4 separate regions of the Homo sapiens genome follow, and regions 2, 3 and 4 are each linked to region 1. Evidence: fine-mapped expression QTL. A gene starts in region 1. Each other region holds a variant in brackets. All regions are shown on one strand. Distances are between the middles of the regions. Region 1 holds the start of CERK (ceramide kinase). Region 2 overlaps GRAMD4 (GRAM domain containing 4). Region 3 overlaps CERK (ceramide kinase). Region 4 overlaps CERK (ceramide kinase).

Region 1 (7,703 bases):
GGTGCCTAACAGAGGGAGGTCAGCCGGGCAGGAACCTGCAGGGTTTAGGCCAAAACTAAGCCCAGCCTTTGGAGGCCTCCCCCTGGGTGTGATGTCCCCCTGGCCCTCCAGGGGTGTGAATAGTCCTGATCCCTGGCTGCCTTTGGAACTATCCCAGGCTAGCCTCACCTCCCTAGCCTTTTAGCTTGGTTCCACTGCCCGCTGAGGGCCATCCTCCACTTCAGCCCAGGCTCTAAGTCTGTCTTCTCTAGATGGGCAGGTTGAGGATGGGCAGGGCAGCACCGTCTTCCTGTAAGAGAAGCTGAGGCAGGACAGTCCTGCACGTCCTGGAGGGTGGAACATACTGGCCCGCCCTAGTGCCCAGGGAGCAGGGCCCACAGAGGCTGAAGCCTGGAGCTTGTGTCATCTACAGTTCCCACATTTCAGACTCTCCCACGGCAGGGAGACCCCAAAGCCTGGGACAGGGGAGCCTGGAGTGCCCCTGCAACCCATCTAATTACCTTTCTGTACAACCGGAGCAGGCCAGGTTAGTTTTGTGGGTCTTAGTTTTCACGTCTGTAAAAAGGGGTAAATAATACCCATTTCCAGGGGCGATTGTCTGGATCATGTGGCGAATGTAGGGATGTGTGTTTTGTAATGATCAGCTTACTCTCCAAATATCTGGGCCTCTTGGGGCCCAAGACATTTCTTCCAGACCCTTGAGGAGAAGCCTCGGATTCTCCTTTTTAAGGCAGTCAGCCTTAAAGAGGAGCATGGGAGGCTTCTCCTTGAAGGTGGAGGGCAGAGGATGGCATTCCTGGCAGCCCATGTACAGCTGGTGCCAGGATCCTCCCACCCAACCCAGCATTCTAGTTTCTGATGTCAGATGGTGGTGCTGACTTCACGAGACAGGGAGTCTCGGGAGATAAGCTGGAAGGACTGGCACAGCAAACAAGGCCAGGGGCCCAGGAAGAGAAGGGAAGAATAGATCAGAGGCCATGGCGGGGACCATGTTAGACGGGGCTGCTGGTGCCAGGCTCCTGCTGGTGGCCAGGGCTCCGTGGACAGGAGGGGCCGGGGCCCGTGGTATGGATGACCCAGTGGGTGGGACACTCGTGGGTATGGGGTTGGACCAGCTTAGACAGAACCTCAGGAGCCAGGTGGCCCATGGGTGGGACAACCTGGCCGCCCAGGGGAACGGGTGCTGGCCGCCGCTGGGCAGGATGTCTGGCTTAGCAGGCTCCAGGGCCATCAGGCCACCAGGCAGCAACCCAAGCCTGCAGACTGGACACAAGACAGGGTCAGGTGGCAGGTCAGGGCCTGACTAATTAGGACCAGAACTCCAGGCTGCTGGGGCTGAGCCCATGCTCTCTGGCCTACCTGGCAGCTCAGGGCCCTGTGCAGAGCTGACCAGCCATGTACACAGCAGGCTAGCAACAGGTTGGGGCATCAGTTGTTCTGAAGTGCCACAAGGAGAAGTGAGGCCCTGTGGCAGCCGGGGGTGGAAGTGCCATGCAGTGAGCTATCAGGGGACTCTGTGGCAGAAGAAACAAGATGTGGTTTGAAGGAGAAGGTGAGTGGGGGCCTCCCAGGCAGACGTGTGGGAAGGGCATTTTGGGCAGGGTCTAAGGTGGGAAAGGTGCCTGCCAGGGAAGAGGTGGGTGAGGTACCGGGAGGTCCTCAGGCAGCCAGGGCTGGCCTCGTCTACATTTTCAAAGCTCCTGTGTCCTTCGCAGCCAGCTCCTGAAGGGCCCCCTGGGTCTGACACACAGCAGGGACCTGACGGCTGCTCTGGGGTGGAGCTGCTCTTTCCTCCCATCCCTCCAGTGCTGTGCCCAGAGTCATGGCCCTGGCCCCACACAGGGCCTGACCCCCACCCAACCCCTCTCCCATGCAACTCAACTGCAGGATGTGCATCTTCTGGAAACCTGGGCTTCGTGACATCACCCTGTCTCCCTGAGCATGAGCATGGGGCCCTGCAGTGGCCAGGCCCCTCCCCAGCCCATCCTAGGACTACAGGTCCCCTGGGTCTGCTCAGGCTGCCATAACAAAATATCACGGACTGGATGGCTTCAACAACAGCAATCTGTCGTCTCCCATGAACAGTTGGCAGAGGCTGGAAGTCTGAGGTCAAGGTTCAAGCCCACAGGGTTGGCCTCCTGGAGGTCACTCTCTTTTGTTGCCCCTTCCCATGGCCACCCCTGTGTACACACGCCTCGGGGGTCTGTGTGTGTTCACGTTTCCTCTTCTTTTTTTTTTGAGATGGAGTTTCGCTCTCGTCACCCAGGCTGGAGTGCAATGGCGCAATCTCAGCTCACCTGGGTTCAAGCAATTCTCCTGCCTCAGCTTCCGGAGTAGCTGGGATTCAGGAGCGCACCACTGCACCCAGCTAATTTTTGTATTTTTAGTAGAGACAGGGTTTCACCATGTTGACCAGGATGGTCTCCAATGCCTGACTTCAGGTGATCCACCCGCTTCAGCCTCCCAAAGTGCTGGGATTACAGGTGTGAGCCACAGAGCCCGGTCAACATTTCCTCTTCTTGTAAGGACGCGCTGGATGAGGGCCCACCCTAACAGCCTCATTGAATCTCCTGTGTGTTTTGTAACTGATGTTGCTGTCTCCCCCAACGGAGCTCCTTCGGGGCCTAAGCACTTCTGAGTCGTCTCTGGGCCCCCACCTCTGGCTGCAGGATTTTAAGCCAAGGCGTGCAGCCGGGGGACAGCAACGTGAATACGCCGGGAGGGGCACGGGGAGCCTAAGCACAGGGAGGCCCAGGGAAGGGGTCCCCAGTAGGGACGCTGGTGCTCTCGGGCCCCTGCCCATGCCACCCTTGCCTGCCAACCCTCTTCGCATGCAGCGGCACCCTCCTGCCACTGGCATGAGCTTTTCTTTCCAAGTAAGTTTCAGATCCACATTTCCCAGGCCTCAGAGCGGCAGCTGAGGGAGGGAGGAGGCTGGGCAGGCCTCGCTGCTGCACACCCCACTGTGTGCCACGATCAGGTACTGCCTGCTAGGACTCTGACTGGGCCCACGGTGGCTGCAGGACTGTCCTGGGGCCTTCACTGCATGGCCTGAACAGGGGCTGGGCTCCCAGGGAGGAATGATTCATGGCTGGTTCCCGCCCTATAGACAAGACAGTCACAAGGAGCTGGCAGGGTAAGACCTGTATATGCTGCCACCTGGTGCCAGGCACAGCAGCAAGGCCACGTGGACCTAGCCCACCTCACCTCTGCCTGCAGCAGCAGGGCTGGGTAGGGGAGCCGAGGGGAGGGGCAGGCCTCAGACCTCAGTGTCACATCCAGGCAGTGTCAGTGTGAGCCTAGGCTCTGCCACACTGGAGCCCTGTGCTCTTGGGCAAGTGACTTAACCTCTGTGAGCACAGTCTTCACTGATAAATCAGGGAGGGATGTGCCCTCCGAACCAGGTTGTGGCTGCTTCCTATGGGGCTGTGTTAAGCACTGCGGACGCAGAGACTGGAGCTTGCATGAAGGCGCACGGCGTGCTCTGAAGGCAGGGCTGGAGTCCCTGCAGGCTGGTGATTCCTTCAGCTGTGGGGTCAAGGAGGCCTTCCTGGGGAGGCGGTGAATTGGGGCCACAGGGGCCGTGTCTCTCCAAGTCTGGGGCCCAGGCTCCGGTTCCTAGGGCCAGCTCGGGGGCGGCTGCTCAGCTGTCTGCTCTGTGGCTTCAGGCCCCAGAGCAGTTCAAAGGGCCAGCGCCCCCGCCCCCTAAAAAGACCTCCGCCTCCTGAAAGCCTTACCTGCCTGTCGGGGCCCAGCTGCAGGCCCCCTCCCAGGCCGACAGGACGCCAGGATCGTAGAGGGCACCCGCCGCCCAAGGTCACGTCGCCCGTGGCGCCCCCATCCAGGCCCGCCCCCCGCCGCGCCCGATCGCCAGGACTGCGTTTCCACGCCGCCCGGACCCCGCCTGAACCGAGGCCCGCGCGGAAGGCGCCACTGAGTCCCGGCCGGCCGCGGGAGCGCCAGATTCAGCACCCGGCACCCGCCGGAGAAGAGAGGAGAGAAAGGCAGCCGCCTCCCGGCCCCAGCGCCCTGGCCTCGGCCAGCCCCATCCCGGCCCCTTCCTCCTCCCTCTTCTCCCCTTCTCGGGTCCCCCCGTCTCTCCCTGGCTCCCGGCCCCTCCTCTACCCACGCCTCCTCCTCGCCCCCGCCCCGCCCGTCCCCTCCGCGGTCCCCGCCGCCCGCGTACGGGGTGACGCAGCGCCGCCTCCCGCCGCCCGCCGCCCGCCGCCCGGGCCACTGCAGGGGCCGCTAACGGTCCGGCGCCCCTCGGCGTCCGCGCGCCCCCAGCCTGGCGGACGAGCCCGGCGGCGGAGATGGGGGCGACGGGGGCGGCGGAGCCGCTGCAATCCGTGCTGTGGGTGAAGCAGCAGCGCTGCGCCGTGAGCCTGGAGCCCGCGCGGGCTCTGCTGCGCTGGTGGCGGAGCCCGGGGCCCGGAGCCGGCGCCCCCGGCGCGGGTGAGTGTCGCCGCCGCCCGGGTTCGGCCGGACCTGGCCAGGGAGCGGGGGCGGCTTGGGGGACCCGGCTGGGGGGACCGGGTGCAGGGAGCGAGCGGCTGTGGTAAGGCCGGGGGCCCTGGGAGCGCAGGCGCCAGGGAGGGGTCGGGGCAGGCGGGAGGGAGGCCGGGGCCAGGGGCCGGGCTGTGCGCCGCCGTCTGCTCCGGGAACCCGAGGACAAAGCGCCGCGCAGTGGAGGGGAGGCCGGCGCCCCATCCCCGCGGGGAGGTGGGACCCGGGGCGCGGGGTCGTGGCCCCCGGTGCGGTCTGTCCGCAGGGCACCTCTGGACAAGACGGACTGTGGATGGATCCCGAGGGGGGGTGCCAGGCGCTCCCCACCGCGCGCATTGCAGTTTACTCCAAGAACAGATGCTTTTCTTTAGCAGGGATCCGAAACCTGAGAGGCGCCCTTGCAGGGTGAGGACTTCCTGTTAAGAAGTTAAAGAAGGGGCCCCTGACTTTCTGTGGGGTGTGCTCCCTGCTCGGGATGGGGGAATTGGTTTCCGTGCCACGGGTTGGCTACTTGCCCCGCAGAGGCCCTCCGGATGAGGAGAAGAGTGACTTTGGTAAACATGGAGGACGCATAGCCCACCCTGGAGAGAGCCCTGCAGGAGGACAGAGGGTTTGTTTTTGTTTTTTGTTGTTTTTTGTTTGTTTTTTGTTTTTTTTTTTTTTTGAGTCGGAGTGTTGCTCTGTTGCCCAGGCTGGAGTTCAATGCCACGATCTTGGCTCACTGCACCTCCGCCTCCTGGGTTCAAGCAATTCTCCCTGCCTCAGCCTCGGAGTAGCTGGGATTACAGGAGCCCGCTACTACGCCCGGCTAATTTTTGTATTTTAGTAGAGACAGGGTTTCACCATGTTGGCCAGGCTGGTCTTGAATTCCTGACCTCAGGTGATCTGCCCACCTCAGCCTCTCAAAGTGCTGGGATTACAGGTGTGAGCAACCGCACCCAGCCTTTTTTCTTTTTAATTATTGGGGTGGGTGTGGCAGAGGCCAGGATTCATGCTGGATGTGCGGAGCTGGAATGGGGTGGGTGTGGCGGAGGCCAAGATTCTCTGGTGGATATTCGGAGCCTGGGATGACACCTTTAGACCCTGTGGGCAGTCGAGGTCAGGAGTTCTTCTGGGCGCTTTCTGGTGCTGAGTGGTGAGGATCTGTGGGTTGGGTTCTGGTGGGGACAGAGTTGAACGTTAGGTGGGGCCAAGGTCGAGGGGTGGTCTCAGACCCATGACCAACACTTGGTTTCCAGCCCTGGGGTCACCTATCTGTGGCTGGGCATCTGAGACTTGACTTTCCTAAGGTATTTCTCATGTCCCCTTTGGTAGAAATGTCACACCCCAAATATCACCCACCAGGGCCCACACACAAGGAGAACAGGTGCCTGACCTGGGCCCGAAGGGTTTGTACTTTGTTGTAAATCCCTAGGCTTCAGGAAGATGACTGCCTCCCCCAAGCACTTCCTAAGTGCGGGCCACTGGGCTTCAAACCGGATGGGTTCCTGAGAGGCAGCTGCTCCCGTCCTAGGGATGCAGGGGCCGATCTGCAGGGGCTGGAAGTGACTGGCCCAATTAGCTGCTGTGCTTGTAGCCACTGGGCTGTAAGGCTTCCCTCAGGCTCCAGCCGCCGCAGAGACGCCAGACCCTTACAGGGCATCTGTGTGGGAGGTCAGTCATCACTGCTTTCTGCCTTGGCGTCCCCAGCCAGCTCCCATTATGGTTTCTGGTCCCCCAGGTCAGGGCTTGGTGTGGTGTGGCGTCTGCTTTTGTCCAGCCTGCTGGGGTTTGCCTCTTGGCATGCTAATTGCTTCACTCTTGCTAAGCCAAGGTGCTTTTGTGCGGGTTCATCCTGAGCTGCCTGACTGGCCTGCCAGGAGCTTGGTCCCTCTTGGAGAGGGAGGGCCCTGGTTTGTGGGGCCATGGATGGTGGGGCCCTGGCTGGTGGCCCTGGCTGGTGGGCTTCCTCCAGGAAGCAGCCTGCCCTCTCCACCCAGGAGTGCTCTCCCATGCAATGGGAAAACATCAACAAGTTGGGAAACGCTAAGTTGTGAATGAGTTCAGGAATACAGCCACACTGTCTCTAGTTTTTTTCTCATAGCTTTACAGTCCCCAAAAGGAATCAGGCCCAGGTTCGATTCTTCTATGCTTGAGGTCAGTAGGGCCATAGTAGGGCAGAAGAATGTGAACCAGCTCACAGGACATTTAATTTGGTCAGCAAGGTGGCATTGCCCAGCCCTCCCCATTCCCCCAGGTGTATCTGGGCACACTGGGATTGATTAGGTTGAGGAATGATGAGAGGTGGAGAATTGTGCAAAAACTGGCCCTAGGAGGACCTGTGAGATGAGGCAGGAGCAGCCCTGGAGCTCCAGGTGACCAATGGGCTAAAGACAAAGCCAAGGCCACTGTGTGTGCCCTGCTGGGGTGGCCGCTTAGTTATTCCGACTCCTTTGTTTTCTCCGTAGCATCACCCCTATTTCAGATGTGGACAGTAGGAGTGGGAATTGACTGGGCCCAGAGGCAGTGATGTACAGAGGGAGCTGGCTTTGAACCCAGGCACGTGCACTTTCGTCAGTGGGTCATCATGCTGGGACAGTGACTGACTGTACAAGAGCACAGACAAGGACTAGCAATTTGGATCGCTGCAGCTTCCTGGGCCTGGGTGAGGTCTGCACCTGAGGAAGCCGCGACAGCAAGTGCCCTGGGCCGCCAGCCTGGTGGGAAGTAGGGCAGGACGAAAACAGGAACTTGAAGTGGGTCATGCTCGTTGAACTGGAAACACTGAGTTGATATCTGGGTTATTTCCCCTGACTGTCGCAAAACACACTTAGACAAACCCTGCATTTATTCCTTTAGAGTTGGGAATGGGAAGAGTGTGTGTGTGTGTGTGTGTGTGTTGGGGGGTGAGGGGACTACTGCCCAGGCTCTACCTTTGTGGGAGGATCCTCCCCTTCCTTCCACCAACCCCACTTGGGATGTCCCAGGCTGGTGGTGAACTCGTTGGGCAGGTCAGTACTGTGTTTATAAAGCGTGTCCTCAGCACACCCTGCAAAGTGCCTGGCAAAACATAGGCATGCCACAGATACTTTAAAAAAATGTTTTTCCTGCTTACAAAAGTAAGTCATGTTGATTTAATAATATCGAGAAAACACAGAAAAGCATACACAAAAAGTCACTCTTCGACTTAGACGTGATTAATATTTGGTATTTGTGTA
Region 2 (7,703 bases), 110 kb after region 1:
TGTGGCATACTTTCGGGGAGGCCTGGGGAAAACAGTTGGACCGTGCCACCCTGTTCCAGCACGTCAGCCTGGGCAGGGCTGCTTCCTGGAGGCTGAGTTGGAGAAGAGCTTGGAGGCTCCCATCTGCCTCTGCCCACTCAGCCCTACAAATAAGTATGCTCTTCCCTCCACATCCCCATCCCCACCGGGCGGGGGGCTGTGTGGGTCCCCATAACAGACATGTGGCAAGGGGCCAGAGGCCTGCGTGGAAAGGCTCTGCCCAGTGCAGAGGCGGAAAATTCAACTCCGCCACGCCCAGCACCCTCCCCAGCAAGCACAGGCAGCGTCGTGCGGGTGACCCGGCTCCATCCACATGTGCCAACCCTGTCTCCAATGGCTGCTCCAGGCCCACGAGGGCTGGGCCCCACGGTCTCCACCCAGTCCTGGGATTCCACAGCCCAGATGAGAGCCACCTGGATACCAGGGTGGTGAGGGCTGGCTCTGCAGGACTCACCAATGAACAAGGGGTCTCCTATTGGGACACAAGGCCCTGGGGTGCTGCCCTGAAATGCTGGGGTCTGAATCCTTCTGCAAGCCCTGTGGGTCCCTCCAGCTGACCCCTTCTCAGACCTACAGAGGAGCCACCCTGAGCTGGAGTCAGAGGCCTGGACTCAGAACTCCAAGGGTGCAGGACACCAAGGCTGTGGCGCTGTCACTATAAAACTAGAGTGGTAGGCCTGGCCATTTCTCAGTTCTTCAGCTTTTCTAGAACTATTTTCTCCAACTTTTGCCTCAACTGAAATCTGCAGCCCTCTCAAGATGGGGCGTGGGTCTTCTGGGGACGTCTCCCATCTCCTGCCTCCTGGTCGGGGGTCACCCCAGACGCTGCCCCAGCCCTAAGCATGCCCACCTCCTTCTTGCCACCTCTCCTTCCAGCCAGCACCAGCCACACAGTTACCTGTCTCTTCCACCTTTACCTCCCCTTCCCAGCCCAGCCTCGTGGGCCCCTCAAGCCCACCCAGGGCCCCTCCAACCTTCCCCTCCCAAGCAGGTCTGGGTTCTACTCTCAGCCACTTTGTCCCAGGACACAAACAGCCCACAACGAAAGGAAGCAGGAATGAAGCGGAGCACACCTGGAGGACATGGTGCTTGGTGACAGCGGCCAGAGATGAAAAGACACACGCCGTAAGGGTCTACCCATCCCCGGTCCCCAGGAGACGAAAGGACACAGGCCGTGAGGTTCTACCCATCCCCGGTCCCCAGGAGACGAAAGGACACAGGCCGTGAGGTTCTACCCATCCCCGGTCCCCAGGAGACGAAAGGACACAGGCCGTGAGGTTCTACCCATCCCCGGTCCCCAGGAGACGAAAGGACACAGGCCGTGAGGTTCTACCCATCCCCGGTCCCCAGGAGACGAAAGGACACAGGCCGTGAGGTTCTACCCATCCCCGGTCCCCAGGAGACGAAAGGACACAGGCCGTGAGGTTCTACCCATCCCCGGTCCCCAGGAGACGAAAGGACACAGGCCGTGAGGTTCTACCCATCCCCGGTCCCCAGGAGACGAAAGGACACAGGCCGTGAGGTTCTACCCATCCCCGGTCCCCAGGAGACGAAAGGACACAGGCCGTGAGGTTCTACCCATCCCCGGTCCCCAGGAGACGAAAGGACACAGGCCGTGAGGTTCTACCCATCCCCGGTCCCCAGGAGACGAAAGGACACAGGCCGTGAGGTTCTACCCATCCCCGGTCCCCAGGAGACGAAAGGACACAGGCTGTGAGGTTCTACCCATCCCCGGTCCCCAGGAGTCACATTCAGAGACAGGAGGCGGAATGCAGGCTGCCGGGGTGTGGCAGGGAGGAATTCCCACCAGGGAGCTGGCGTGTGACACGTGCTGGGCCTCAGTCTGGGATGACGAAAGGTTCTGGAGGTGGAGGTGGAGGTGGAGGTGGCGATGGTGGCACAACAGAGGGCATGTGCTCCGTGCCCCTGAACTGCACACTGACAGTGAAAATGAAAATGGTACATTCAATGCTCTGTGTATTTTACCACAACAAATAAAAAGAATGAAGCCTACATGTGTGCAAAGATGACCAACTTCCTGCACAATAAAAGCCGTGCAACCTACAGCCACTCGGCACTGCCGTCTTGCCCCTCGGGGCGGTGGAGAGAGAAGCCTGAGAACAGCGTGGAGGCCGGGGTGGGGGCACATGGCCCTCGAGGGAGCTATGGAGGGCACACTGCAGAGGCCGGGGTGAGGGCACACGGCCCTCGAGGGAGCTATGGAGGGCACACTGCGGAGGCCGGGGTGAGGGCACACGGCCCTCGGGGGGCTATGGAGGGCACACCGCACAGCTGCCAGGACCACCACACAGGCACACTCGGTCCAGCACTTCCACCAAAAGTGCCGCAGCCCACATGGGCACCAGGCTGCCAGGAGTGATGGACGCTAAGAGCCACAAGCACCTGCGATCCCTCAGTGGGGACAGATTAGCTGAAGTGACGAACATCCCAGGGTGAGATCCTGAGCCGCTGCCAGGAGTGAGGCTGCTTGGGGTCCGCCACGGAAGAGCTCCTGGAGCACTGAGAGGGGCGGTCAGAACACCCCAGGCTGCAAGGTGGGCTCCGGTCTGAACCTGCCCCTCCAGGGAAACCCTCAGACCCTACCGGTGGGCACGGAGCATGGCGCGGCTGCACATGAGAATGCGGTAGATCCTGGAAAAGGGCAATCTCGGGCCTCTGCATGGCCCAGCGAGACCATGTGGAAGCACATGCACACAAACACTCAATCGCAGGCATTCAGCCTCATTCATCACAGTCCAAGAATGGAACTGCCCAAGCGCCCACAACAGATCAATGAATAAAGACAACAGGTCGGGCGCGGTGGCTCACGTCTGTAATCCCAGCACTCTGGGAGGCTGAGGCGGGTGGATTGCCTGAGCTCAGGAGTTCGAGAACAGCCTGGGCAACACGGCGAAACCCCGTCTCTAATAAAAATACAAAATATTAGCCGGGCGTGGTGGTGTGTGCCTGTAATCCCAGCTACTTAGGAGGCTGAGGCACGAGAATCGCTTGAACCTGGGAGGTGGAGGTTGCAGTGAGCCGAGATCACACCACTGCACTCCAGCCTGGGTGACAGAGTGAGACTCTGTCTCAAAAAAAAAAAGAATAAGAAAAAGAAAATGTGGCCTGGCCATATGATGAAACAGGTTCAGCCATAAAAAGGCAGGCGGCACCAATGCACACCGCAGCATGGATGAACCTCGCGTCCCTTATGCGAGCAAAGGACAGACACACGAGGCCTCATGTTATATGAGATGCCCCATATGGGCAAATCCATCGACAGAAAGCAGGCTGGCAGCTGGTGGGGCCGGTGGCCAAGGGAAATGGGAGTGACTGTGAAAGGAACGGGGTCTCTTTCAGGTGATAAAAACCTTTTAAAACTGTAGTAATGGTAGCACAGCATTGTAAATATGCTATTAATAGAAACCCCTGAGTCGCACACTTTTAGTGGGTGAACTGTATACTGTATACCCGGTGGGAATATCTCGATTAAGCTGTTATAAAACCAACCCCCAAGGCCTCTGTGCCTGAGCCCAGGTCTCAGGATGTTTCTGGGAGGCTGCCCGTGTAAAGAAGGGTGATGAGAGGGGACCTCGGAAGGAGCAGGGCAACGCTGCACAGCCCCCCACCCCGGGGGCCTCGTGAGCCTGGGCCGGAGCAGTGTCAACGTGCTACAGGAACGAGGCTTCGCAAAGGAGCCCTGGAACCAGGAGGAGGGTTTAGCGAATCAGTATTTCACGGTCATTAATAATTACAACTCCCTCCAAGCTAACCATAAGCAAGACGCCAGCCACGTACGTTTCACTTATTATCTCATTTGATCCTTAAAGCAGGCCTGGGGGTGGACGAGACTGCCGTCCCCCTTAAAAGCTGAGGATACTGAGGCTCAGGTCCAGGTTACACAGCTAAGGAACTCAGCCTGGTCTCTGCAGTCAGTGCCTGACCTGCATTCAGCACGATGCCCCAAGCGGGGCCCTGCTCACCCACACTAGGAATCTCCTGGGTTTCCAGACGTCCGAGTCCCTGAGGTGGTTTCCCCCCGCAGCCCCTCACAGCCTCGAGGAAGGGGGGCCCCAGTCCACAGGCTGACCTTGCCCTGGCCTCTGCAGCATTTGCCCCTACTCGGTGGGCTCCCTCTCAACTCAACATGCCCCCTCAAGCCCCCTTGTACCTCGTGGACCACCACCTGCCCACCAGAGCTGGTCCAGACCACGGCCTGCCTCTCCTGTGACGCCAGCAACACCGCTAGCGCCATACCCTCTGCCACCCCCAGGAGCCACATTCTCCAAGCTACTCCCCAGACATCACCCTGGAGCGGCCAGCTCTGACACTGACCCTCCCCCGAAGGGGATCCCTGATGCCCCCCAAATCCAGATGTTCTGCCCCAGGTGAAGACTCCCATGATCCCACAGCCCTACCTCCTGCTGCTCCAACCAGACCAATACCTGCAACCCTGGCCCTGGCCCCCTCACTGCAGCCCTCCACCTG[C/T]CCCTCAGACACCAACGCACACACTCAGTCCACCCGCCCCTCAGACACCACGCACACACTCAGTCCACCTGCCCCTCAGACACCACGCACACACTCAGTCCACCTGCCCCTCAGACACCACGCACACACTCAGTCCACCCGCCCCTCAGACACCAACGCACTCAGTCCACCCGCCCCTCAGACACCAACGCACACACTCAGTCCACCCGCCCCTCAGACACCACGCACACACTCAGTCCGTCTCTGACCAGCATGGGCAGGACACGAACCTGCCTGAGTCCATGCTTGGCCCGGCCACAGAGGACAGGGACGAAACCCCAGCCCACACCAGGGGACAAGGACAGGTACTCACAGGGTCCCTCAGGCGGGAGGGTCCCTACCGAGACAACACCTGGAGCAGGACAGACGGATGGCGGAGAGGGAGCTGGGGAAACAGCCCCGCTCTGGCCTTTGCGTGGAATCCCCGTCACCCCTCCCTGTTGAACCATGTATGTGTCGGGAGGGAGATTTTTGTTCCCGAGACACCCACCACATGCTCAGCACACAGACCACCATCGGAGAATCGTGACCCATGCCCTCTGTGCCAGCCCCAGCCAGAGGCGGATGAGACACAGCTCTCCGGCGAAGGCAGGCCCCTGCCGTTCTGCCACATAACCTGCACAAGGGCAGACACCCTACCGGGGTCCCGGTCCACCCCCAGGACCAACCACAACCTTTGCCTGGGGATGGCCGATCCCGGCAGGCCGGGCACTCTGTGGTCTGTAGTGATGCCCCAGGAAGCCAAGCGGCCCCACCTGCCTGATCGGGCAGTGTCGAGAGAGCAGCAGCAGCAGTAAATTATTAATTCCTGCTGAAAGCAACGCACAGTCACTGTCCTGTTATAAAGCATTAGCAACGCAAGGAGCCAGGGAAGGCCGGCGCTCCCAGGCCACACCTGGAAAGAAGACCTGGCTCAGGGGCTGGAGGAGGAAACCAGCCAGACACCAAATTTGGTGTGTGCATGCGGGGAGGAGCTAGAGGCCATGCTGGGCCAGAGGAGGGGCCGCAGGGAGCCCAACCCACCATGCTTCGGGCCCTGCCCCACCCCCCACCAAATGCAAGTTTCTGCAAGGCAGGGCCTGCTCCTGCCTGGCTCCCGCCTGGCTCCCCACCTGGCTCCCACCCAGGGCCCAGGGCCTAGCTGAGGTGCTCCGTGGGTATTTGCTGTCCCCCCAGCTGGCCACAAGCCCAGCCCTGATTCCGCGTGGCTGATGAGGGCCCAGCCTGGGCTTAGCCAGCTTTGGGGGCTGGAAACGTGCACCTTGGCTTGAATAGAAGACAAGCCAGGCACCAGCGGCTTCCAGACAACGCCCGCCCTGCTCCATCCGCATGTCAACGCTCCCAGGGCCAGGCCGAGGCTTCCGCGTCACATGTGCGTGAGAAGTCTGCCACCCACCCAGAAAAGCCAGTGAGGAAAACCAATCCAGCCGCTAATCAGACCTGCGAACACAGAAGGCTCGGCGTGGCAGCACCCCGGCCCCACAAGGTCTGCAGGGGTCGGGAGCAGGTGAGACAGAGAGTCAGGCCCAGTCCATCTCTGACCAGCATGGGCAGGACACGAATCTGCCTGAGTCCACGCTTGGCCCGGCCACAGAGGACGGGGACGACACCCCAGCCCACACCGGGGGACGAGGACAGGTACTCACAGGGTCCCTCAGCTCCTCGCTGTCCCGGGGCGAGGTCCGCGGTACCTTCAGGGGGATTTCGTCGCTGCATTCGGTGTCCGAGGCATTTGGAGACTCCGCTAGATCGAGGAAGTCATCTCTCTTGTGACCTCTGAACCTGATTTTGTCCAACCTCCTTAGCATGTTCAGCACTGAGGTCCTCTGCTTCACCCTAACATGACGCTCGGGTTCCCTGCAAGAGAGGGGCGTGGTCACTCTCCCGCTCGCCACCTCCAAGCCCCACGAGCCAGCTCCCACACACAGGGCACAGCCGGTCCAGCTTTCCAAAGAAAACCCCGACCCAGAGACCCCGCCCTGCCACCGTCCCTCCCACACACACCTCCAAGCCCCACGAGCCAGCTCCCACACGCAGGGCACGGCCGGTCCAGCTTTCCAAAGAAAACCCCGACCCAGAGACCCCCGCCCTGCACCCATCAGGTGGGGCCCTTGGCCACCCCACCCAGGCCAGCCTGGTCAGTGCTGAGCTGCGTCCTTGCCTCCCACCAAGCGAGGCCCCCGGCTCCCAGCAGGCAGAAGGAAGCCAGGGTTCTCAGCCTGGCTCGGCGAGGCGGCGCGCAGGCGCAAGGGAAGAATGCTGCTCTGGCATTGGGAAGGAGGGCCAGCCATGCCAAAAGGTTGCCTAACAAACCGTCAAGAACGTGGTCAACACGACGGCCACATACACCACCAGGACGGCAGCCACGCCTGGAAACCAGCAGATGCGTGTGCTAGGGATGCCTCGGTTGATTCTCTCCTGGACCTAGGGGACCTGGCCTTGTGTCCCACCTGCTCCACCTGGCCCCGGCTCCCAGGACTCCGCCCACACTGCTCCCTCTGCCTAAAGCGTGTTCCTACTCGCCATGCGACCAGGCTCATACTCTGAGACACATTCAGATCGCACCACCTCCCAGAAGCCCTCCCAGAGACAGCGGGGTCAGGCACCCATGGCCAGCTGGGCCTCCTGTCCCAGCCCCCATGCCTGCCTCCTCCTCCAATCAACACAGAAACCTGGTCACACTGAGGTGCGAGTCACTGTGTGCTGCATCAGGACACGCGTAATTCACACACACCACGTGCCAAAGGGCGGATGTGCCGTGGGGTACTGCTCCCCACATCGCTGCCCGACCTGGCCAGCAACACCAAGGCACCCCCAAAAGCCTGGAGGCCAGGATCAGTGGCCCACAGGAGGGGCCAGCCAGGCAGGGAGAGGCCACCCAGCCCCAGCCCCATCACGCAGCTCCATGGCCTGGATGCCTCTCCCAAAACCCCGTCCCCAACTTGTCCAAGACAACTGGGTCCCCGTGGGAGGACTGCTCTGTACACACCTGGGCTGAAAGCCTGTCCTGCCACTGACCAGCTTTCTGAGCTGACATTTTTGCCTCTGAAAATGGAAAGATGCCAGTAAGGCAAAGGTATCCAGGAATTCAAGAAGACAGGGCAACTGGGCCAGGAGCAAGGAGATGGGGCGGGGAG
Region 3 (7,703 bases), 45 kb after region 1:
AGTTCGCTTTCAGATAAATCTGTATCAAATTAAATCGAGTAATTCCTGATACTAAAATCTTAACCCTTATGAGAGAAAGAAATAGTGATTTGGCAAACTTTACGAAGCTTGAAAAGATTTAATGAAATTAAAAACTAGTGTGGCTTGAAAATTAAAACCTAAGAAATGGCAAAGTGAGGTATTTATCTAAGGCTTATTAAGAAAGGGAATACCGAGAAAATTAGAGAAGCCGCGAGAATTTTAGGAAGCGGTTTGGGTTGTGCCATTCTCCCGACTGCCCTTTGTTGAGCCCAGTGTGGCTCTGCCTAGAATGCCCCTGGGATGCCCCCTCCCTGTCCCTGCCTGCTGGGGTGGGGTGGTGGGCAGCCCCCCTGCATGCCTGGCCCCCCCCTTTGCCCTCAGCCCATCACCACAGGCAGTGGCTGCAGCTCTGTCCCTCCCACCAGGATGAGAGCCCCGAGGCAGGAGACGCCTTCCGGGTCTCTGGATCCCCATCCTGGCCACAGGGCCTGAGATGCTCTCAGGAAAGCGGGTTTGGGTTCTGTGGCTGTGAGGCAGAAAGCACCCGGTTGTTCTGGAGCAGCACAGAGGGCATGGAAGGAGAATGAGCGTGTGGAAATGACACACTCTGTTGAGACACGTGGAGTTTTAGGTGCCGGTAGGACATCTGGGGCCCATCTAGGGGCAGACAGAAACCGGGACATCAGATGTCGGTGAGGCGCCACCCTGGAGGCTGCGTCTGGGTGATGAGGCAGCTGCCCCCCTGCCCCCTGCACTTGAGAGAGGAGCCGGCTTGGAAGGTTGCTGACCAGTGGGTCGGCCTCCTCCCAGGGCCGTGGACACGACGTCCTTGTGGGACCCCCATGGGAGGAGCAGGGAGAGAGGCCAGAGCCACTCTGCAGGGAGGCGGAGCTGCAGCCACCTGGAAGGGCCCGCCCGCTGAGTGCATTCCAGGCACCTGGCCCATGCCAGGTGCAAGACCCACAGACGGGGCTGTCCTAGGGACAGTCGGGAGCTGACTTTCAGGCACACAGATGTCCTAGGAGCCAGACTGCTCTTGCCGGCAGCTTCCCCCACCCCTGGGCGGTGCACACTTGGCTGTGGGCTTGCCATCTGCGGATGAGGATGTGAGGCCTCTGTGTGTCGGGGGTAAGGTTGTGTGTGACGGCCCTGCAGGCCGTCACTGCCACACCAGATGTCATACAGGGCAGCACCAGCCCCAGCATCAGACACGGAGGAGTGAAGTCGCCCTGAGACTCACAGGACACGGCCTGGCTCCTGGTGTGGCCCACGACACCCTGGGGCCCCTCTCCTGCCTCCTGCCCAGTCCCTGCTGTCCTGCTGGGTGGTGTTTCCCAGACAGCCCGGGTGCCAGGCTGCTGGCAGCCCCGTGGACAGCGCACACGTTTGCCTGGAGGGTGGCCCCAGACTTTGGGTGGCAGCGGCCCTGGCCTCTGTCCTGAGCTGTTCAGGACGTCACAGGGGCTGTGGCTGACCCCAGTGGGGGCCAAGCCCTGAGGCAGGTGGGGGCATCACTGACCCTCATGAAGAGGTGGAGGGGATGACCCTGAGCCACTGGAGCCCACAGGCCACATCATCGAGGCTATGAGGGGTGGCTAATGGCAAAGGCCCCACTTTGCCAGCGTCAAGAGTGGCCATAGCCCTGGCTGTCCCAGCATCACTGGGTGTCAGAAGGCACCAGCACTATGACTAGACGTGCTGTTGTCCTGAGGGAGGGCAGAGACCCTGCCACTGCCTTCAATGGTGACATGGCCTGAAGCAGGCCCGGCCTCTCCCTCCTGCAGACGGTTTAGGCAGATGCGCGCTCAGCGACATTTCTGAAGCTGCCCAGCACAGCATCCTAACCAAGCAATGACCCTTGTGGATGTTTTTTCTTCACTGCACTCTGTTCCCAGGTTTAAAGACCTTCCTCTCCCACCACTGCTATGAAGGGACAGTGTCCTTCCTCCCTGCACAACACACGGTGGGATCTCCAAGGGATAGGAAGCCCTGCCGGGCAGGGTAAGTGCATTGCTTTGTGTGTTTCTCTTGCAAATGACGGGAAATGAAGCAGGACGGTTAGGAAGGTGAATGCAGAAGTATTTTCCAAATGTGGTGGAAGGTGCCGGATGTAGCGTGCCCAGACACACGATGCCTATGATGCCCATGATGGCCTAGGCGTGCATGGGGCTTGCTGTCCCCATCTCTGTCCCCATGGCCTGCGCAGGCAGCTGCTGCTGTGCCAGGGATGAGGACTCTGGGGGAGGGTCCCACACCCACTGTTGGAGTGGGGGCTGAGCACAGGGTCTTTCCCTGCTGGGGTTCCCTTTACCCCCTGCAGGGGCCTGATGGAGGAGAAATGCAGGCAGGAAAGGATGGCAGACACCTTATCAGTGACTGTGCGTGTGCAGGGCACTGGTGGCAGGACCGTTGGTAGAGCTGGCTGAAGTGTGCACTCTCAGCAGCCACCCTCCTGTCCACACCCCTGGCTGAGACCCTCACCCATGTTAGCCCCATGCTCCAAGGCAGGAGCCCACTCTAAGGTTAGCAGAGCCCAGGCCAGCCACGCCTTCAACCCCACAGGAAGGCAGGGACCCTCAGCAAGAAGGCTCGGGCTGGCAACAAGGGCTGGTGCCAGGGGTTGGGGGGCAGAGCCAGGGCAGCTGCCCAGGGAGAGGGGATGCAAAGGGAAAGAGGCGCCCCACCGGGGAGGGGAGGCTGAGTGCAGACAACACAGCTGGAAACGCTGCGCTCTCCCCTTACATTTGGTCCCCCAGTTTGGCCACTGCAGGCTCTGCAATGGTGGCTACGCCACTGAACAAGCAGGGACTCCTTTCACCTGGCATATCTCCGCCCCCACCCCCACACAGTGTATTCAGTAATATGCGACCAGTGTAAATAGAACCTTAAATAAATCTAAACATAGTTGTCCCAGGCCGCATGACCTCCCTAGTGACCATGGAGGGCGCCTGAATGGTCATCCTGTCTCTGCTCTGCCTGGGGCTGAGGACACGGGGCTGTGGAGACAGCTGCGCCTTTGTGAAGGACACTCACGTCCTTTCCTTTTAAGTCATGCAGACTTCAGAACCTCCTTCTAGCTCCTTTCCTTTTTTAAGTGAAGAATTGGAGACCATAAAATCAGAATATGTAGAGGCAGATGCTGTTTGCGTCAGTGCATTAAAGAACTCGGCTGCTGATGAGCGATTTCCATCAGTGCAAACAGTGTCCTGTTTGACAGCGTGAATCCGGCAGCCCCCAAGATCAGAAGGACGTGCTAGACGAATGACTAAGTTCTAAGCTGATGGTTCTGAGTTATTTGCTTGTTATTGACTGTAACAGATAAACCCTGTATGATTTGTTTTCTGAAAGTAAATGAGTCCTCACCCCAGGAGTCCGCTGGGGGAACCAGTGCCTCAGTCATTTCTCCCAGCCAGGCTATGTTAGCTGGAGGGCCAGGCAGAAACCGTCTCCAGGTGGCACCTCAGCGTCCTCATGCTGTGCTTCTCCTCATGTCCAAACCTTTTAGAGAAGGACATGTTGAATGTGTCATTGTAAAAGTAGGTCTCATTCTGAAACCTCTAATTAATATGCCAAAAAATATTTTGTTAAGCCTTTGAAATGGAATTTTTTCGTATGTGAAAAGAATGTAAATACATCTATATGTGCCAAGCATACGCACTGCACCTGCAGCTCCATATTTAAAAGGTGATGATATTCTTGTCTTTCAGATGCTTTGTTTGCAGGCAAAGCAAGCAGCAGCTGGAGGAGGAGCAGAAGAAAGCACTGTATGGTTTGGAAGCTGCGGGTAATTCCTAAAACACAGGCTCAGTGTTGTCACTGTGTGTGCTGGAGTGCGGGTTTCTGTCCTCTCTCAGGGCACTGCCTCTTCTCCCTGCCCACCTGTGCTTTTCCTTTTTCCTGTCTGGCACCAGGCATCCATTTCTTCTTAGCCCCAGGCAGCGTCAGGTCACTGTTACTTGCCGTGTGTGGCTGTGTGGAGCAGTGGGTTTTGTGAAAG[G/T]CCCCGTTACCCTTTCTGAAACGCTGTTGTGGTGCTGAGTCTGGACTCCTGTCCCAGGTGCTCTAGAATGTGGGGGCAGCAGATGTCCCATTGAGGGCTTGCTTGGTGACCACCTCAGGCCCTGGCAACCACACAGTCTCTGTCCAGCAGAGGCAGCCTAGGCAGTGTACAGTGAGTGGGTATGGCCATCTGCCGATGAAACTTTATTTATGGACACTGAAATTTAAGTTTCATAGAATTTCCACATGTCACAAAATATTATTATTTTGATTTTTTTCTCTTTCTCTTCTTTTTTTTTTTTTTTTTTTTGGATGGAGTTTCACTCTTGTCGCCCAGGCTAGAGTGCAGGGGCACAATATCAGCTCACTGCAACCTCCGCCTCCCGAGTTCAAGCGATTCTCCTCCCTCAGCCTCCCTAGTAGCTGGGACTACAGGCATGTGCCACCATGCCCAGCTAATCTTTGTATTTTTAGTAAAGATGGGGTTTCACCATGTTGGCCAGGCTGGTCTCAAACTCCTGACCTCAGGTGATCTGACTGCCTCAGCCTCCTAAAGTGCTGGGACCACAGGTCTGAGCCACCATGCCCAGTCAATAATATTTATTTATTTATTGGGACAGAGTCTTGTTCCATCACCCAGGCTGGATTGCAGTGGCGCGATCTCGGCTCACTGCAACCTCCACCTTCTGGGTTCAAGCGATTCTCCTTCCTTAGCCTCCTGAGTAGCTGGGATTACAGGCGCCTGCCGCCATACCTGGCTAATTTTTTTTTTTTTTTTTTTTTTTTTTAAGACAGAGTTTTACTCTTGTTGCCCAGTCTGGAGTGCAATGGCGCAATCTCAGCTCACTGCAACCTCTGCCTTCCGGGTTCAAGCAGTTCTCCTGCCTCAGCTTCCCCAGCAGCTGGGATTACAGGCATGCACCGCCACGCCTGGCTAATTTTTGTATTTTTAGTAGAGATGGTTTTCACCATGTTGGCCAGGCTGGTCTCGAACTCCTGACCTCAGGTGATCTGCCCGCCTCGGCCTCCCAAAGTGCTGGGATTACAGGCGTGAGCCACCGCGCCAGACCTTTTTCAAGGATTTAAAAACGTGAAAAGCATTCTTAGCTCTCAGGCCACACACAGACGGGCGGCGGGCCGGATCTGACACACAGCCTTGGTTTGCTGACCCTTGTTCTAAATTGTCCAAAAGTCACCAAGTGAGGAGAGGGACAACAGTCCTGCCTTCTGGGAGGTGATCCTTTGGGTACCACTTCCTGCGGGGAGCGGACAGTTCCGTGGTGGATGTTTTTGGTGTTGAGCTGAAGAGTCGATTGCATGAAGTGTCTGCTAAATGCATGAGCAGGTGAGAGCCCGAATGGCCTCCCACCGTCCTGGTGCAGGGCGCTGCCCGGCGCCATTGTAACTGTGACATCTCCGTGGTTCTTTGTGCTTCAGAGGACGTGGAGGAGTGGCAAGTCGTCTGTGGGAAGTTTCTGGCCATCAATGCCACAAACATGTCCTGTGCTTGTCGCCGGAGCCCCAGGGGCCTCTCCCCGGCTGCCCACTTGGGAGACGGGTCTTCTGACCTCATCCTCATCCGGAAATGCTCCAGGTTCAATTTTCTGAGATTTCTCATCAGGCACACCAACCAGCAGGACCAGGTAAGTGGGGTGCTCTTGCATGGAGCCTCCACTGGCGAGTAATTTATGTTCCAGCAGTCCCTGGTTTATGTGTTGTAGGAATTCATTATTTAATTCAAGGGAAGGAAGGGCAAACTTTTTTTTTTTTAATTTCACAAACTTTAAACTCCTGGTTACAACTACTCCTTGTAAAATATCATTTAAAACGATAAATTTTTGAGGCCAGATGCGGTGGCTCATGCCTGTAATCCCAGCACTTTGGGAGGCTGAGGCAGGCGGATCACCCGAGGTCAGGAGTTTGAGACCAGCCTGGGCAACATGGTGAAACCTCATCTCTACTAAAAATACAAAAAAGCCAGGCGTGGTGGCGTGCGCCTGTAATCCCAGCTACTCGGGAGGCTGAAGCATGAGAATCGCTTGAACCCAGGAGGTGGAGGCTACAGTGAGCTGAGATCACGCAACTGCACTCCAGCCTGGGTGACAGAGTGAGACTCCATCTCAAATATATGTGTGTGTGTGTGTGTGTGTGTGTGTGTATGTATGTATACATGTGTGTGTATGTGTATATATACATATATGTGTATATACATACACATACATACATATACACACATACATACATATACACACACATACATACATACATATACACACACATGTATTTGAGCACAGAAACTAAGAGGTATGAATCTTTATAATACAACTTCTTACCCGTTGTTTCTCTTCCTATTTAAAAACAGAACAAAGCGACACAGTAAAGATGTAAGTGGCCCTTGCAGGCCACTGAAAATAGACTCTTTAGGCTCCCAGAAATGGGTTCTGTTCGGACCCTTCTACCACATCTTTCTGTAGCCTATGCAGAGGAAGACCCGAGTCTAGTCATGTTGGGGGAAGCGGAACTTTTGGTCACAGTCTCCAAATTTAGTCACATTTCTTTTTTTACTTAAGTTCTATTTAAGATCTAGTCTAATGCTATTTTTATGTGGCTTTTTAAGTAGTGCTTGTTAAAAAGAGAATACAAAATTCTAATAATCACTGCTAATTATTTATCAGAATTCTGTAAAAAGCGTTCGTCATTGTAGATAAGCTGTGGTTTCTAAAAGCATTAGAAGTCATTTTGACAAGTGCCGCGGAAGGTGGGCACCGGGGAAGGTAGGCGCCGGGGAAGGTGGGCGCCGGGAAAGGTGGGTGCCAGGTTTCCCTTCATCTCTGAGCTGTCAGTTCAGCTGGAAAGGGAACTCCAGGGGCCTGCACAAGCAGTCGCATCCTCCGAGAAGGGCCGTGTGTGCACCCAGGCCTGACAGCGCTCGCTGTCAGGCCTGGGGTGTTCTGCTGCCCCACCCAGACGATGACGTTTAGAGCTGAATGGTCCCTCTCACTGTTTCTTGGTAGTTTGACTTCACTTTTGTTGAAGTTTATCGCGTCAAGAAATTCCAGTTTACGTCGAAGCACATGGAGGATGAGGACAGCGACCTCAAGGAGGGGGGGAAGAAGCGCTTTGGGCACATTTGCAGCAGCCACCCCTCCTGCTGCTGCACCGTCTCCAACAGCTCCTGGAACTGCGACGGGGAGGTCCTGCACAGCCCTGCCATCGAGGTCAGGTGCGTGCAGGGGTCCTCCAGCCACCAGCGCCATCCCCTTGAGCCCTGAGGTGTCTGTCACAAGCTGCCCCACCCAGGGTGGGGGGTTCCCTGGGGCTTTATAAACACAAAACGTAAGAATGTTTTATAAATGCACTTTTCTCTCCCTATGTCAAATATCGAATGAGATGCCGTTACCCACATTCTGGAAAGATGCCAGGGTGCCGAGTCCTCAGCATTTTGTTTTGCAGATAATTTTCATGGGTGTTTGAAGCTCCTCCATTTCATTCTTTTCCTCTTCCACACCCTGTGCTCCAGGCTGGCATTGGGCTCTTTGCCCTGGCATTCTCTCTCTCTTCTCCTAAATAATTCAAAAGGTGGGAGGCTGAGGCGGGCAGATCACTTGAGATCAGGAGTTCAAGACCAGCCTCGCCAACATGGTGAAACCCCGTCTCTACTAAAAATACAAAAAAAATTAGTCGGG
Region 4 (7,703 bases), 54 kb after region 1:
GTCGAAAGGTCCCAGGAACACCGGCCACCCCAGGCAGCCGTGCACAGGGACTTTCCTCTGTCAACTCATTTGACAAGTTTGGGAAGTGGGATTATTTTTAATATTGGTGTATGTATTTATTAAAGAAATAGAATAATTTGAAAATCAGGACAGGCATTCTTGAAATACGTCCTGTCTATCTTGATAAATATGGCTATGCCTTGAGCAGCACGTCGCTTTTAAAAATATAATTTGTGTGTGTGTGAGCTCAGCTCCATGGAAACAGCCTGTCACTTATTTATTTCTATTTTTTTATTTTTTGAGACAGAGTTTTGCTCTTGTTGCCCAGGCTGGAGTGCAATGGCGAGGTCTCGGCTCACTGCAACCTCTGCCTCCCAGGTTCAAGCAATTCTCCTGCCTCAGCCTCCCAAGTAGCAGGCGCCCGCCACCACACCTGGCTAATTTTTATATTTTTAGTAGAGACGGGGTTTCACCATGTTGGCCAGGCTGGTCTCAAACTCCTGACCTCAGGTGATCCGCCCGCCTGGACCTCCCAAAGTGCTGGGATTATAGGCGTGAGTCACTGTGCCCTGCCCCAGCCTGTCACTTAATGAAGGGGTTTAGGTTACTGAAATACGTCTGAGGAGGCTGTGATATCATTAATAAATGAGATAAATAGAGCTGTCCTGTGTGGGAAGATGGCACTCACCCACGGACTCACTGTGGCCACCGAGCCCCTGGGCAGGGGACCTCCAGGGACCCCCAACTTGTTCCTCAAGCCCGAAGGCTCTTGCTGGCGTTGGGCCACCTGTCCTTCTCATCTGAGCATTCCTCACACATCTCTTACACGCATTGAGTCGCCCCGCACAGACTCCTCGCAGGCCTTGCGCGCTCAGTACTGCTGAGAAAATGGAGGTGGGTGGGTGGGTGGAGTGGGCAGACACTGGAGCGGACGCTCTGCTTTCCATGGGGGTGCTGGAGTTCGAGTCAGGTCTACCGATGCCCAGATTTCCCACCTGGCCATTGGCAACCCCTTTACAAACTCGGCATCCCGGGAGTCTAAGTGAATTATTCCACGCCCAGGGCCCGTCATTGTGGGCTGGACTCCTACAGCCCACGGTGACGTCTGACCGTTCCATGGGGGATGGACCCCCACTTCAGCCCCTGTCCAAGAGCGGTGCTCAGGGCCAGCTTTGAGTGAGGGACACGTGGGGTTTACTGCAGCCCCTGTCCAGGAGTGGGGCTCAGGCCAGCTTTGAGTGAGGGACACGTGGGGTTTACACGTGGCCGCTTGTCTCTGCAGAGTCCACTGCCAGCTGGTTCGACTCTTTGCACGAGGAATTGAAGAGAATCCGAAGCCAGACTCACACAGCTGAGAAGCCGGCGTCCTGCTCACAAACTGGGAAAGTGTGAAAACTATTTAAGATAATTATTACAGACCAATTATGTTGATATATACATTTAAATGTAGAAATTTATTTTTGATAGTTAAATCTTGATTTTAGAAGAAAACCCTTTTGTCAACAATTTTGTGTACATATTTGGCATTTTCAGTTCTGTACGCATCTGCGGGTTGCAGCCCACGCCGCTTACTCTCAGCGGATGCAGCTGCTCACTTGGGGGCACTGGCCTCTTAGGTTTTAACGATGTCAACAGTGTAGTTTAGAAAATGGCCCGTTAGTGGCTCTATTGCAATAATGTTAGGGACATTATATGATTTCCACGCAGGTCACACCATCTGGGCCTGAGGTAGCAGTGGGTCACTTTGATCCACTTTGCAGGACTTATTCTGTAACGGTTTGTGGCCAAGTTTTGGGAAGTGGTTGATTCTCTTTGCCTTCATTTCACCTTCCTCTTCGTTTACGGTTAGGACATCGCTGCTTGATCCTTACAATACTGTGCAACTGCAATGCAACGTGGCCCTGCTTCAGGTGATCCGCGGGAGGGGCCTCCACGCCAGCGCCGGGAAGGCTGCTGGGGCCTCCACACCTGCCTCATCACGGCGGCGAGGCTACGACAATCCGGCTGGGAGCATGACCTTGGCGTCTGTTCTGGGAGCACGGATGATAAGCTCTGGAAGCTGGCAGTGTGTAAAGCACTGGCAAGTTTGTTACTGTTAAAATGTCAAATACCAATGCTTTATATCGACGCGAAGTGCTTAACACAGCCGGGCTTGGGGGCAGTCAGGAGGAAGCTGGCCATCCGTGGAGGAGGGGCCGGTCCTGGACTCCCGCAGGACTCCTCTGAGGCAGGGCCTGAAGTCTGTACACGTGGTCCAGATTTGTCCTTGTCTTTTCTTCACACTGAGTTCTCTATATTTATTGAACATCTTGTCCTTTTAAGCCAGAGTAGTGTAAACTGCGTCTCGGATGTCTGTCTTTTGCCTCGAAGCCACGATGGATCGCTGGTTTCCTCTGCAGCGCGAGGGCTCCGGCGACCAGAGGATTCTTCCCGGAAGGCATTCCTGCCGCGCTCCCCGGGGCACCCCTCAATTGTGTACTACGTCCTTGTTTAGTGTGTATCCGTGCCCACGTAGATGATGTCTGTAACGTAGTTTTGTTTGAAATATGAGAATATGCGGCTTAAACTTTGATCTGTAAGGAGCGGGGCCGTGGCCGTTTGGAGCACGCTGTAGACACCGTTCCTCATGCTGCCGGGTGGGTTTTGCAGAAGCTCCCTTAGTGATTTCA[T/C]GTTTAACAGGCAGCATCCATTTTCAGAATTTCCTGGCATTGATTTATATTTTGAAGCATACAGGAAACTTCTCGTTTCCTCGTTTAGCCCCACCCAGATCAGGTGAAAGGGCAGCTTTAATGGTGGTTTTTATGGACCACATTATCAGAGAGCACTGTGCAAGCCAAATGGTTCAATAATGAATGAAAATTCTGGGTGTAAAGAGTAAATATGCCCTGGCTCTTTCTACCAATGTTTGCTCCTGGTTGGAAAGAAACCAAAGATTTAAGACGGGCTGCTCTTCCAGACTGGCTGTGCCTGCCTGTGCCCAGCAACCTGTGCAGCCGGCAGTGTGCCTGGTGTCACGCCAGGAGGCTGTGGCTGCTGTGGGCCCTCTGGAATTGTGCTCCTCACAAAGTTTCCCCAAAAGGTTCTTCTAAGCCTTTATTGTCCCTGGTAAATGTTTCCCGGCTGGGCGCGGTGGCTCACGCCTGTAATCCCAGCACTTTGGGAGGCCGAGGCGGGTGGATCACCTAAGGTCAGGAGTTTGAGATCAGCCTGCCCAACATGGTGAAACCTCGTCTCTACTAAAAATACACAACTTAGCCAGTCTTGTTGGCGCACGCCTGTAATCTCAGCTACTAGGGATGCTGAGGCAGGAGAATCGCTTGAACCCAAGAAAGAGGTGGAGGTTGCGGTGAGCCAAGATTGCGCCACTGCACTCCAGCCTGGGCAAACAGAGGGAGACTCCATCGCCCCCCCCAACAAAAAAAAAAGTTTCCCATACACTGGCCTGCCCCAAAACCCACTAACAATTTTAGCAAAACAGTCCAGGCCAAAGAGGAAGCATTTCATGTTCAATAAGAAACCCAGCCATTCCGCATGGCTGGTTCCTGAGTGGCTCTGGTGATACTCTCCAGCCACCTGCTGACATTCAGAATCTCAGACCTCGGGACTGCTGTTGCGGTACCGTGTGTCTGACACCTGCCAGCAGCCCTTTGCTATCTGCGCGCAGGATGGGGGTGACTGCCCAGACATTCCCGCTAGATAGGCTCTGATTTCCGGGGCAGCCTTTCAGATGCGGCAGACATACAACACCTGTACTTTAGAGTTTTAAGGGAAAAAAAATCAGAAGTGCTGGTTAGATAGTAAAAACTTAGGATAACTTAGAAAGGCTAGTTTTAGCTTCCTTTGTGGCTCCCTGGTGCAAAACAATTAGCAGTTATGCAATGGACCTGATTCTAGTTTATTCTAATTAAGAAGTGAGGCCGAGTTTGACTTCGTTCCTGAATACAATCTTGAGTAACTGGGAAAGTCTGAGTGAAAGGATGGCCTCATTCTCTTTCTAATCTTGCTGGTTTCAAGATTAGAAAATGGCATTATTTGATCTGAAATGTTTGAGAAGACACGAATAAAGTTACTTGGGCAGACTTGGCTTGCTTTCTTTCCTTTACACATACCTGTTATTTTCAAAGCAGAATATTTTTCATGAAAACACACACAATTTAAAGAACAAGAATAAAATGAAGCAAGGTGTCACCACCACCTATGCCAGGCAACTGAACGCCGCCCCGAAGCCTTCTGTGCCCTGCTCTGGAGTCCCCCCGCTCCCCCTGGGAGGGCGCTACGAGGTCACGCCAAGCGCATCCCTTCCTGCCTCTGTCCATGGCTGTATCTGCAACAGCGAGTTTAGTTTTGCAGGTTTTGCTCCTTATCCAAAGGAAACGTGTTGTTTTCTGTAACTTGCTTCTTTCACTCCACATGTCTATTTTTATTTATTTATTTATTTTGAGACGGAGTTTCGCTCTGTCACCCAGGCTGGAGTGCAGTGGCGCAATCTCGGCTCACTACAATCTTGGCTCACTGCAAGCTCGCCTCCTGGGTTCACGCCATTCTCCTGCCTCAGCCTCCGGAGTAGCTGGTACTACAGGTGCCCGCCACCACGCCCAGCTAATTTTTTGTATATTTAGTAGAGACGGGGTTTCACTGTGTTAGCCAGGATGGTCTCGAGCTCCTGGCCTCGTGATCCACCAGCCTCGACCTCCCAAAGTGCTGGGATTACAGGCGTGAGCCACTGCGCCCGGCCCACTCCACATGTTTGAGAGGGCATTTGCATTTGTATTTGAGGAACTTCGAAAGGACATTTGCATTGTGAAACTGACTTTTCTGGTCCATGAAAGATCCTCATTCATGTCTTTTAATTATTTTATAATTTTTTCCATGAAAGTCTTTAAATTTTTAGATTTATTCCTAAAACTTGACTTTTGTTTGTTTTTAACCTTGTTTTAAACAAGGTCTTATTCAGTTGCTCAGGCTGGGGTACAGTGGCGTGATCACGGCTCACTGTAACTTCAATCTCTCAGACTGAAGCAATCCCACCTCAGCCTCCTGAGTAACTGGGACTACAGGCGTGCAACACCATGCCTGGCTATTTTGTTAAAATTTTTTGTAGAGACAGGGGTCTCACTCTGTTACCCAGGCTGGTCTCGAACTCCCGGGCTCAAGCAATCCTCCTGCCTCAGCCTTCCAAACTGCTGGGATTACAGGAGTAAGCTACTGTGCCCAGCCAAAAGTTCTTATTTTGAGGCTTTTTAATGTTTTGTAAAGATAGGGTCTCACCATGTTGCCCAGCCTGGTCTCAAACTCCTGGCCTCAAGTGAACCTCCCATCTTGGCCTCCCAAAGCGCTGGGATTACAGGCGTGAGCCACCACACTTGGCCTTTGAGGCTATCTTAAAATTTGTTTTGTTTTGCATAGAAATGCAATTTTTTGTTTGTTATGAGACGGAGTCTCGCCCTGTTGCCCAGGCTGGAGTACAATGGTGTGATCTCGGCTCACTGCAACCTCTGCCTCCGGGGTTCAAGTGATTCTCCTGCCTCAGCCTCCCAAGTAGCTAGCATTATAGGTGCATGCCACCATGCCCAGCTAGTTTTTTGTATCTTTAGTAGAGATGGGGTTTCCCCATGTTGTCCAGGCTGGTCTCAAACTCCTGGCCTCGTGATCTGCCCGCCACAATTGTTTTTTATGTGTTGGGTTATATCCAGAAACCTTGCCTCCCGTCAACCTAAAGTGACATCAGAGTGTTCTCCTAAGAAAGAGTTTATTCAGGAACAGCAAGGGGATTGCAGTCAGGATATGCGTGCTACACTGGAAGGCATTTTGGGGGGTGTTCGCGATAAAGGCAACACTTTAAAAGGCAAAGAAGTCCATGTAAGCTGCTCTAGAACGAAGTTCACAGGTCACAGCAGCTCCTGGCAGGAGGCAGTACTGTTCACCGCAGGAGTGGCCGTCACTGGGCGGGCGCCCTCGTCGCAGTCCCGAGGGTTCTGGGGTGAGTTCTGCTACAGGCAGGTCTTCGAGAGCTTCTTCACGGCCTCCCCTGACTCATTTTGTACCAGCAGCTTCCACACTCCTATGATGATGATTTACCTGTGAATTTCGGGGTTTTCTGTCATCATATCATTTACAGATAGTAACAGCTGAATGTCTTCTTTACAATCGTGCATGGTCCAGCTATTTCCCCTAGCTTGCGATGCCAGCTGTGACATGTGGTAGAGAGTTGAGCAGAGAGGATGGCAGGGGCATGGGCCAGCTCCTGTCTGAGGGAGTGGTCAGCTGCCCATCACTGCCTCTTGGCTCCAGCCCCACCCCAGCTGCCCCTCTGTGATCCCAGGTGTCTCCCTTCCAGCTGACGTGGACCCGAGGGCCCCAGGAGGAGGGCAGAGCTGGGCTTCCTGGTTCCAGGGGTTTTGAGGGCAGATTTCTGATTTCAGCAGCACTGGGTGGCTGCACAGCCCTTTCCCTGGGCGGCTTTCCCAGCTCACACCAACACAGGACGGGGTCTTGGGGTCCTTCCTTGGCTGTGCCCTTAGTCTGTGGCTCCTGTAGTCTCTGGCCAACCCTGTCCTCCAAACACTGCTGGAGCTCATAAGCCCATAGAATGCTGCCTCCTGGAGTTCTGCAGGACGAGCAGAATGGACCACAACCCTGGGTTCCCAGCGTCACTCACTTTGGTCCATGTGAGGCCCTCTCTGATTTATTTACTCATTCATCCGTTACATTCATCCAGTAAATATTTAAAAACATATAGCAAGTACCTATGAAGAGAACCCCTGGTTCAAGAATAAAATCATTAACAATTTCATTCCCCTCTGGACTCTCCCTGACGCACCCCCACCCTGGGTGACCCCTCTTCTGATTTGCAGCCAGAGTGCCAGCTTCTGCTGGAAGCTCTGCAGTGCCCCATCACTCCCAGAACAAAAGTCCTAGAGGGCACCAGGCCTGCCCCACAGGTTTGTGACCTTTCCTTGTTGCACAGCCCCTCTGGTAGCCAGGTACAGCCGAGAGATGCCGCTGAGTAAGGTAAAATGCATGCATTAAAACATGCACGATTGCCAAGGAAACCAGCTGCACTGAAATAGTTATCACAATCACCCGTAAATGGTGATAGAGGTATATGTAGGCACCTTTATTGACACTAAATGGTGAAATATACGCAAAACAGGCAAGTTGTTGGTTTAGGCATAGAGCCTGTGGGCCGAGGGTGGGTGGTCTCCCACAAGGTTGGCCTTTTTGAGCACTCAGAAGCCCCTGGGAGGCCCCTCCGCCTCCTCCATGGCCCGGCTCCAGTGACACCTGCCATGGGCCCACACTGCCCCCTGTCTGTGTGGAGGGGTCAGTGTGGGCTGCCAACGGGTTAGGTAGGTCTGAGCCTTGTTCCAAGTTAGGAGCAAGCTGGGGGAGGACCTGTTGCAGAGGACAGAGGGGTGGGTGGAAGGGGTCGGTGGCTATCACAGCATGGATGTGTTCCTGGGAAGGATGTGAGGGTGTGTTTGGCAGGTTCCTAGCCCATCACTGCTGTGTCCCAGCACCAAGGACTTGGCTGGCTGGGTGGGTGGGTGGGTGGGTAAATGGGTGGATGGGTGGATGGATGGATGGATGGATGGATGGGTAGGTAGATGGATAGGTGGGTGGGTGGGTGGGTGGAAAGATGGATGGATGGATGGATGGATGGATGGATGGATGGATGGATGGGTAGGTGAATGGATAGGTGG

Evidence for each region.
Region 2: its variant is fine-mapped to the expression of CERK in whole blood (TOPMed, PIP 0.96).
Region 3: its variant is fine-mapped to the expression of CERK in whole blood (INTERVAL, PIP above 0.99).
Region 4: its variant is fine-mapped to the expression of CERK in whole blood (INTERVAL, PIP above 0.99).

The regions. Positions count from the first base shown.
Region 1 is chr22:46,734,759-46,742,461 of GRCh38, reverse strand. CERK (ceramide kinase) reads left to right here and starts at 4,210. Exons shown (of 13, transcript NM_022766.6): 1 at 4,210-4,455. The coding sequence starts at 4,314. LOC105373077 (a long non-coding RNA gene) reads left to right here and starts at 6,070. Exons shown (of 2, transcript XR_001755593.2): 1 at 6,070-6,159; 2 at 6,954-7,703. RefSeq lists enhancers at 3,368-3,697, 3,071-3,729, 4,968-5,137, 5,825-6,398 and a silencer at 3,858-4,817.
Region 2 is chr22:46,625,471-46,633,173 of GRCh38, reverse strand. It overlaps GRAMD4 (GRAM domain containing 4), which reads right to left. Exons shown (of 19, transcript NM_015124.5): 2 at 6,213-6,423. The coding sequence starts at 6,374. Among named protein-coding and RNA genes, the nearest start is that of GRAMD4, 8.9 kb to the right of the region's middle. RefSeq lists enhancers at 1,869-2,369, 5,107-5,892. The variant C/T (reference allele first, on the strand shown) is at 4,528.
Region 3 is chr22:46,689,529-46,697,231 of GRCh38, reverse strand. CERK (ceramide kinase) reads left to right here. Exons shown (of 13, transcript NM_022766.6): 9 at 1,917-2,022; 10 at 3,729-3,805; 11 at 5,455-5,660; 12 at 7,032-7,240. Among named protein-coding and RNA genes, the nearest start is that of CERK, 45 kb to the left of the region's middle. The variant G/T (reference allele first, on the strand shown) is at 4,019.
Region 4 is chr22:46,680,786-46,688,488 of GRCh38, reverse strand. It overlaps CERK (ceramide kinase), which reads left to right. Exons shown (of 13, transcript NM_022766.6): 13 at 1,283-4,079. The coding sequence ends at 1,355. It also overlaps a transcript of GRAMD4 not described here. Among named protein-coding and RNA genes, the nearest start is that of CERK, 54 kb to the left of the region's middle. RefSeq lists a silencer at 1,883-2,177 and an enhancer at 4,458-4,959. The variant T/C (reference allele first, on the strand shown) is at 2,670.